Homo sapiens: one gene and its partner. The protein of the gene in region 2 purifies or fractionates together with the protein of the main gene of each other region. This does not show direct contact. Each region holds a gene or a part of one and is shown on either strand. Other genes may lie near its edges. The genes, in order: MARF1 and PAN3.

The links.
Region 1: the proteins of PAN3 (region 2) and MARF1 purify together in Homo sapiens (affinity purification with mass spectrometry, with the first as the bait; one large-scale study listed by BioGRID). This does not show direct contact.

Annotation. Positions count from the first base shown.
Region 1 is NC_000016.10:15,597,951-15,601,766, forward strand, and holds part of MARF1 (meiosis regulator and mRNA stability factor 1), read right to left. Parts: intron 2,752-3,816; coding exon 2,691-2,751; intron 2,604-2,690; coding exon 2,478-2,603; intron 1,075-2,477; coding exon 904-1,074; intron 1-903.
Region 2 is NC_000013.11:28,141,247-28,145,062, forward strand, and holds part of PAN3 (PAN2-PAN3 deadenylation complex subunit PAN3), read left to right. Parts: intron 1-3,816. UniProt on the Homo sapiens protein: Regulatory subunit of the poly(A)-nuclease (PAN) deadenylation complex, one of two cytoplasmic mRNA deadenylases involved in general and miRNA-mediated mRNA turnover.

The DNA of each region.
Region 1 (3,816 bases), on a different chromosome or scaffold from region 2:
TCCTGGGCAACAGTGCTGAACGCTGCCAAGAACAACCAAGATGGTAAAAGCCAAGCCAGGAGTCCACGGGTTGTTCCTGGTGACCTGGAAAGCAGCACCAGCAGTGGGGAGGAGTTGGGTTCCAACAGATGAAGAGCAGGGAGGGATCTGTACAGGGCAGATGGGCCATCCTCTCCAGAGGCCAGGAGACACCGCAGGACAAGAGGGCTTGGGTTCCAATGCCGGCTCTGCCCTTGCTAGCCCAGCAGCCCGGGGCCACTGCCTCTCTAGTGACGGCACCAGCTGTGCCTTAGTCACGCAGCCTGTGGAATAAAGCAGCTGCCTTTATTCCACGGCTCTCACCTGGAGCCGTGGTAAGAGTTAAATGTGATGGTGTCTGTCAGCCCTGAGCACAGGGTCAGTGCCAATGCCTGCACTAGGCTGGGACTCAGTGTGCTCAGCTTCCTGTCTGTTATATCACTGGGCAGAGTCCGGGGCTCCAGCCACAGACACCTCCCTCCATTCACCCCTTTATAAAGCCCTTGGGCCCTCTGGACCCCCACCATGGGTGACGTGTACATCTGGTGACAGGTGTGCCTGAGAGCAGCTGAACCTTCACAAAGTCTGGGAGAGCAGAAGCCCAGGAGGCCCCACCCACCCCTGTGGACTCGCCCACAGCCCCGAGCCACCAGCCCTCCAGAGCTGCCAAATCGCCCTTGCCTGATGCTCGCCAGGCAACCTCAGGCTGTGCATCCCATTCTGCAGGAACCCAGGTGGGGAAAGAAGGTCGAATAATCAGCACAGTGTTTTCCACCTGAAAAGGGGTAGTCCCTTCCCACCTCCGTCATTTACTATATCAGTATCTCATCGTGGTTTTGTTTTAAACCCCGAAGAAAATCCCCATGACAACATGGAGTCACCCACCAGAAGGCTCTTGAGGGCGCTCCTCAAACTGAATGAGATCAGCAGATTGGAGGATAACGGGGTCTGGTCTCAGCTGAGGGGACGGCAGGCACGAGGGGACAGGCGCACACAGGAGGTCGACGGGGGAGTCGTCGGTCAGGCGGAGAAGCTCCTGCTCTGTGTGACTGGGCCCTGGGCAAACAAGGAGGGCCGTGACACCACAGGACCTCCACGCCCACCCCCAGCACACACCCTGGGCTCACACCTGAAGTTTTCCTTCTAAGCCTTAAAGATAAGAGAGTCAAGAAGTATTTAAGGTATTAAAAAAAAAAAAAAAAAAAAACAAAAACCCAAAACCCACTAACAGGAAGATCCTGGTAATGGAACGCCTTAATAAGCTAGTTCTTCTGAAGATCCGTGTTCTTAGGAACACTGGCCCCTCAAAAGACCCAACCAGAGAAAAGGGTCCTGCAGTCAGCTTCCAAAGAGAAGGGACAGCCTGAGACGGGGTGTACGTAGTTAACAGCAAGTGGAAGCTCAGAATCCGAAGCCCTGGGCCTGGTTCCGTGGCTTCCTAGCTGCTGACTCTGGGTGAGCTGTAATACGTGACTGCCTGAGATTTCCGAGCCTCCGCTGCACAACGGAGGTCAGCACTGCTGAAGGCTGTGGGGCAGCTTCGGCAGATGATTCCCAGGAGGGCGCTTCATAAAACGTCAAATGCTGTGTAACTCAGTTATCCTAAGGGCACAGGGGACGGTAACGTGCTATCTCGCCGCATGTTATGAAGACAAAATTCTCACCTATAACGATGAATTCAAAAGTCCTTCAGAAAAGTTAGAACTGCTATAACATTCCAAGAATTGGCCTCTATCTACTACAGAGGTGGATCTATCTGAAATCTATGTGACTCAGTGTAATTTTGGGTAATATTAATGCATTAGTATATCAAATCCTGCCTAGGGCTGTCCTGTGACAAAGACGCCTTGACCAGCCATGAGTCAGGCACCCTGAGCCCTCTTCCGGATCAGGCCTGACCTTGGCCTTCCATGTCTGTTGCTGAACTTGCCGGCTCGCTCTAGAGTCTTAGCTTGAGTCAGTTTAGTGAGAATCCCCTCACCCTTCACAGCTGATCGAATTCCTTATTCCCAACCACTGATGTCTAGATCCTTGGCTGGCCTGCATGCCTATAGCAAGAATCCTCTTAGTAATTTTCCACCCACTGAGCCCTCACTCTGCTCCTAGGCTATGTATTGGGAGTTGGCTCTCTCTCCCCTGTTGCAAGTGTCATGAATATCCATTATAATAAGTGTCGGAATAATTTTTTTCTTCAACATCTGAACTGGGGTAAGATGATCATTATGGGGGTGCCAACATCCTTCAGGGACTTTAACCAGTCAACCATGCAATGCTAACAGATAAAGGTCAATTTTATCCTGTTACTAACTAAATACCAAAACTGCTTTGAAAAATGTGTGGCTATGTAACTTCAGCAGATTGGATGACTTGCTGGAGTCCTTTCCCTCGCTCTCCCCGACCCCAAAGCCGTTTCTCCTAGAATTTCACAAGCTCCTATGTCTCTGCTTTTCCTCTCTTACCACTGCCGTCAGCTCCAAGCTTGAGTTCCGAGGCTGTGTGCGATTCGGGCACCTCCAGGATGCGCTCGCCCTCCGAGGGCTGGTTTTCATGATTGGCAGGGGAGAGACTGAGTGAACTCAAACGACCTACAGGACAAAGAGCACCCGTCAGAGAGAAATGTCAGTGAGAGAACCGTGATTTTTTAAGGGGGGAGGGGATGGGTGCTTACTTACTTTTCATGTCATTTTTTAACACTACAATTCTCTTATGACCATGTCCTTTTATCCAGACCACCTGCACACAAGACATACTACTGGTTAAGCAGCGGAAAAGGAGGGGACAGAAGCCCTAACATTCAGGAAGAGTGTGACCTACGGAGCCTGCCTTAGGCTAGAATTTAGGAGCTGAGTTACTGCCAAGAAGCATGTTTCTCTACTCTCTCCTTAGCTTTTAAAGCAACAGAAGCTGACAGAAACATACCCCTATAAAAAGCAGAGTAGTTCAAAAATCATGAGACACAGTTTCAGAAATATCCTTTATAATTCTTAAAAAGACTGTCTTCCAAACACCAGCTTTGGCATATAAATTAAGGTAGTTCTCACATGAGAGCTCTTTGCCATTTTTTTGCAGAAACTGAACAACCACCTAAAAGAATTAAGAGCAATCTCTCAGACCCTTTAAACTAAGTTCATTATCAGCATCTTAAAGTCCTCTCCCTGATGGTGCCGCTCTCCATCTCAGCCAAGCAGAGTGGTAGTAGTGGAGCTAGGCTCCCAGGCCCCCTACATGTGCACACCGTCGCCAGGTCACTGATCTCAGCTCCCAGGCAAGCTTTGCCTGGGTCCTTCCTACTTCCTCTATTCTACTATTTTTACTCTGGCTCAATCCCTCCATCTAACACTGACCCAGACCTCTGCAGTGGCCAGGATCCTAGCCCAGTTCCCTTCTCCATGCCTGCTTCTCTCGGCTCTACCATGGACAGCACCACTGGGGTGCTTTTCAAATGCAAACCTGGGCTCCAGCTCTCTCCAACACAGTCCTCCCTCCTTACCTGGAGGAGCCACGCCCTCCCTAACCGAGCTCTCAGCTCCCTCTTAGCCTCTCGACACTCCATGCCACTTGTCACAACCCTGCATCTGCTCATGTCATCATCCCCTTTGCCCAGAATGCTCTCTCCCCTCCTTGTCACGTGCTTCCCTCAGGCACATCCTTGAAGGTTTTGCAACAGGCTCCCCAGGCTTGGGAAGTGGGCCCTGACACGGCCCTCCTCAGCGCGCCCACTGCCCTGACCGCCCTGACTAGTTGCCTGCTTGGGGGTCTTGACTCTCCCATTAACCAACACCTTTCTAGAGTTACAGC
Region 2 (3,816 bases):
GTCCCGCCTCGGCCTCCCAAAGTGCTGGGATTACAGGTGTGAGCCACTGTGCTGGCCAGAAAGAGGCACTTTTTAAAATGCTGGTGTTAGACTTCATAGGTGATCTTTCTAGGATTCTCTTTTTAAAAAAAACTTTTAAAGTTTTATTTATCTATTAATCTTATTCCTGACAGACAGCTCTGACGATCATTCTAGGATTTTCTTTTTCTTTTTTTCTTTTTTTTTTTTTTTTTTTTTTGAGACGGAGTTTCACTCTTGTTTACGAGGCTGGAGTGCAATCTAGTGATCTCGGCTCACCGCAACCTCTGCCTCCCGGGTTCAAGAGATTCTCCTGCCTCAGACTCCCTAGTAGCTGGGATTACAGGCAGGCACCACCACGCTCAGCTAATATTGTAGTTTTAGTAGACACGGGGTTTCTCCATGTTGGTCAGGCTGGTCTCAAACTCCTGATCTCAGGTGATCCGCCTGCCTCGGCCTCCTAGGGATTACTGGCGGGAGCCACCGCACCTGGCCGAGGATTTTCTAATTAACACACAATAGGTAGAAGGGCTGAGACTTGAAAGAGGACAGGATGTAAGCAGATGAAGATGGGAGGGGAAGGTAAGTACCCTTAAGGTGGAGGAAAAAATATTAGCAGTGGCTCAAAGGTGGGACATCTTAGGAAAATAACTGAGATATAGGGACTCGAGAGGACAGGCAGTTAATGCTGAAAAGGTATTTTAAAATTAATACTTTGTCACTTGTTAGTAAAAGTTGTCTGATTAAATAGTTGATTTATGTATTTAGATTCTGTGGTGTTTGCTTTAGCTTGTCTGGCTGAAGCCTAAGGCTCCTCTTTTCTGTGATAGGCTTCTTGGTATCTCTCAGTAATTCCTTATGGATGGAGATTTCTTCATAAGGAATCACAACCTAGGTATTACTGAGAGATACCAAGGAGTGGGAAATAATGTTGCTCAGGAATCAGGAAAAAAGGTTGTGTTGGTAATTGTATGGCTTTTTTGAGTTTTTACACTTATTGTTCATTTTTTAGACTGCTTTCTACCTTTTACTGTATTCTCATTCAGTGTGTTTTGAGACAGTATTGATCCGTTTATTTTATTTTGAAGAGATGATGTCTTGCTGTGTTGTCCAGGCTGGTTTCGAACTCCTGGGCTCTAGCAATCTCCTGCCTTGACTTCTCAAAGTACTGGGATTATAGGTGTGAGCTACCACATCTGGCCTTCATTGGTTAATTATGTGTGTGAGGCAGTTAAAATAGATGGCAATTTTTTTTTTTTTTTTTTTGAGACAGGGACCACAGGCACTGGCTACCAAGCACCTCTAATTATTTTGTATTTTTGGTAGAGATGAGGTTTCCCCATGTTGCCCAGGCCGGTCTCAAACTTCTGGGCTCAAAGCGATCTGCCTACCCTGTGAGCCACCATATATACCATAATTTAGTGTTTTTAATTTCTATGTTTGTGGGTTTTGATTGAATCATTTGACAACAAAAGAAACAAAAGATTTAATATAGAAGTACAAATTTCTGGTTTCCCTTTAAGGATGTCTCTTACCTGTGTTGGAATTAGAGCTGTTGATAGAGCATAATTCTCTCCATTTTGACTCATTCCCTAACTGGATGACTTTTATATCTAGGCATTTGAGGTTTTGACTCTAACTTTAGCACTTCACATTTGCAGAATTGTTTTTGTTTTGTTGGTGTTTCAGATAGTGTTAAAACCTTGGAGGTGGGTGCATGAGAAAACTTTATCTTTATTTTGCAGCCATTGGAAAACTGAAGCACAAAGGCTTTTTCTTAATACACTTAGTTGCAATGATGTTTCAACCTTATAAGGAAACTGCAATTTGATTTTTTGTTTTTGTTTTTGTTTTTGTTTTTTTTGAGGAGGGGGTTGGGAGTTCTTGCTGTGTTGTCTAGGTTGGACTCCAACTCCTGGGCTCAAGTGATCCTAGCACCTCAGCCTCCTGAGTAGCTGGGACTACAGGTATGCCGTACCATGTAGCTTACGTAACATTTCGTATTTCTGTTAGTCTTGGGATTTTTCTAAGGCTTAAGAGTGATTTGATTTGTATTCAACTGCATTATCGATTCTTGACATTTAATGATGTAATTCTAATATTTTCAACTGGCTAGATTTTCAAAATGGCTTTAATCTTCAAAGTGTACAATTTTTAACAGGTAAAATATGCCAATATTTGTATTTTATGTACATTATTTGAAACCCAGTAGTTTTAATTTACCAAAATACACTTTTCAATTCTCCTAATGTAGTTACTAGTGAATAAGACATGTTTCAGATAGAATCCTGGCTCTTTGACTAGCTTTGTGACTGAACGAATTTTTAACCTTTAAGCCTCAGTTTTTCTCATCTGGAAAATGGAGATGTTATGAAAATTGCATGGCATTGCCTGCACATATTGAGGTTTCAGTCTTAGTTATTGCTATTATTAAATATTAATAATCTATAGTTAACCTCTGTATTTCCTTCTTCAAATTTTTGAGGGCATACATTGAAGACTAGTAAAATAGCTACAGATTATTGAATTGTGATTGTCCAAATGGAGGAGAGCAGTGCCATGGATAACTTGAAGTTCAAATGTTAGCTTTGGAATATGTAATGTGTAGCGTGTGGCAAAGCTGTTTTTGTTTAAGCCAAGACTAGCCTTTTCATCCCACAAACCTATACTAAGTGACAGAGAAGTGAGTACTGGCGATTTGCTGTTAGGATAGCTGGCATAAGTTTAAACATTTTTATTGGAATAATATACTTAGTATATCATGAAGGCTTTATAATACTGTTCATTTCACTCATTTAATATCCTGCTTCCAAGGTGGTAAGCTCTGATTAAGGTGATAGGAACAACAACAGCAACAAAAAAACATAATTCAGCCCTAATGGAGTTTACATTCTAGTGGGGCTATAAATATCTATAAGGTAATACTTGGTTTCGATAAGTTTTTTTGTTTTTTTTTTTTTTTTTTTTTTTGATATGGAGTCTCGCTCTGTCTCCCAGGCTGGAGTGCAGTGGCGCAGTCTCGGCTCACTGCGAGCTCCGCCTCCTGGGTTCACGCCATTCCTGCCTCAGCCTCCTGAGTAGCTGGGACTACAGGCGCCCGCCACCACGCCCAGATAATTTTTTTGTATTTTTAGTAGAGACGGGGTTTCACCGTGTTAGCCAGGATGGTCTCAATCTCCTGACCTCATGATCCACCTGCCTCGGCCTCCCAAAGTGCTGGGATTACAGGCGTGAGCCACTGGGCCCGGCCGGTTTCGATAAGTTTTATGAGGAAAACTCGAGGGATAACGTAACTCCAGGTGAGATTGAGTTAACAAATAAAGCACTTTTTCCTGTAAAAGTGCATTTGATGAGATCGGGCGTGTTCAGAGTGGTATGATCATAGACTGAAAGTGCATTTGAAATGACCCTTTAAGAAGATAAATGATTATCAAAAGCAAACCAAAACATCATCTTTTTTTTTTTTTTTTTTTTTCCTCAGAGCCTCACTCTGTAGCCCAGGATGGAGTGCACTGGCGCCATCTTGGCTCACTGCAACCTCTGCTGCCCAGGTTCAAGCGGTTCTCCTGCCTCAGCTCCCAAGTAGCTGGGATTACAGGAGCCTGCCACCGCGACTGGCTAATTCTCGTATTTTTAGTAGAGATGGGGTTTCACCATCTTGGCCAGGCTGGTCTTGAACTCCTGACCTCGTGATCCACCTGCCTCAGCCTCCGAAAGCGCTGGGACTACAGGCGTGAGCCACCGCGCCTGGCCCAATATCATCCTTTTATATGCCATTTTGAGGAATTTTTCCCCCAA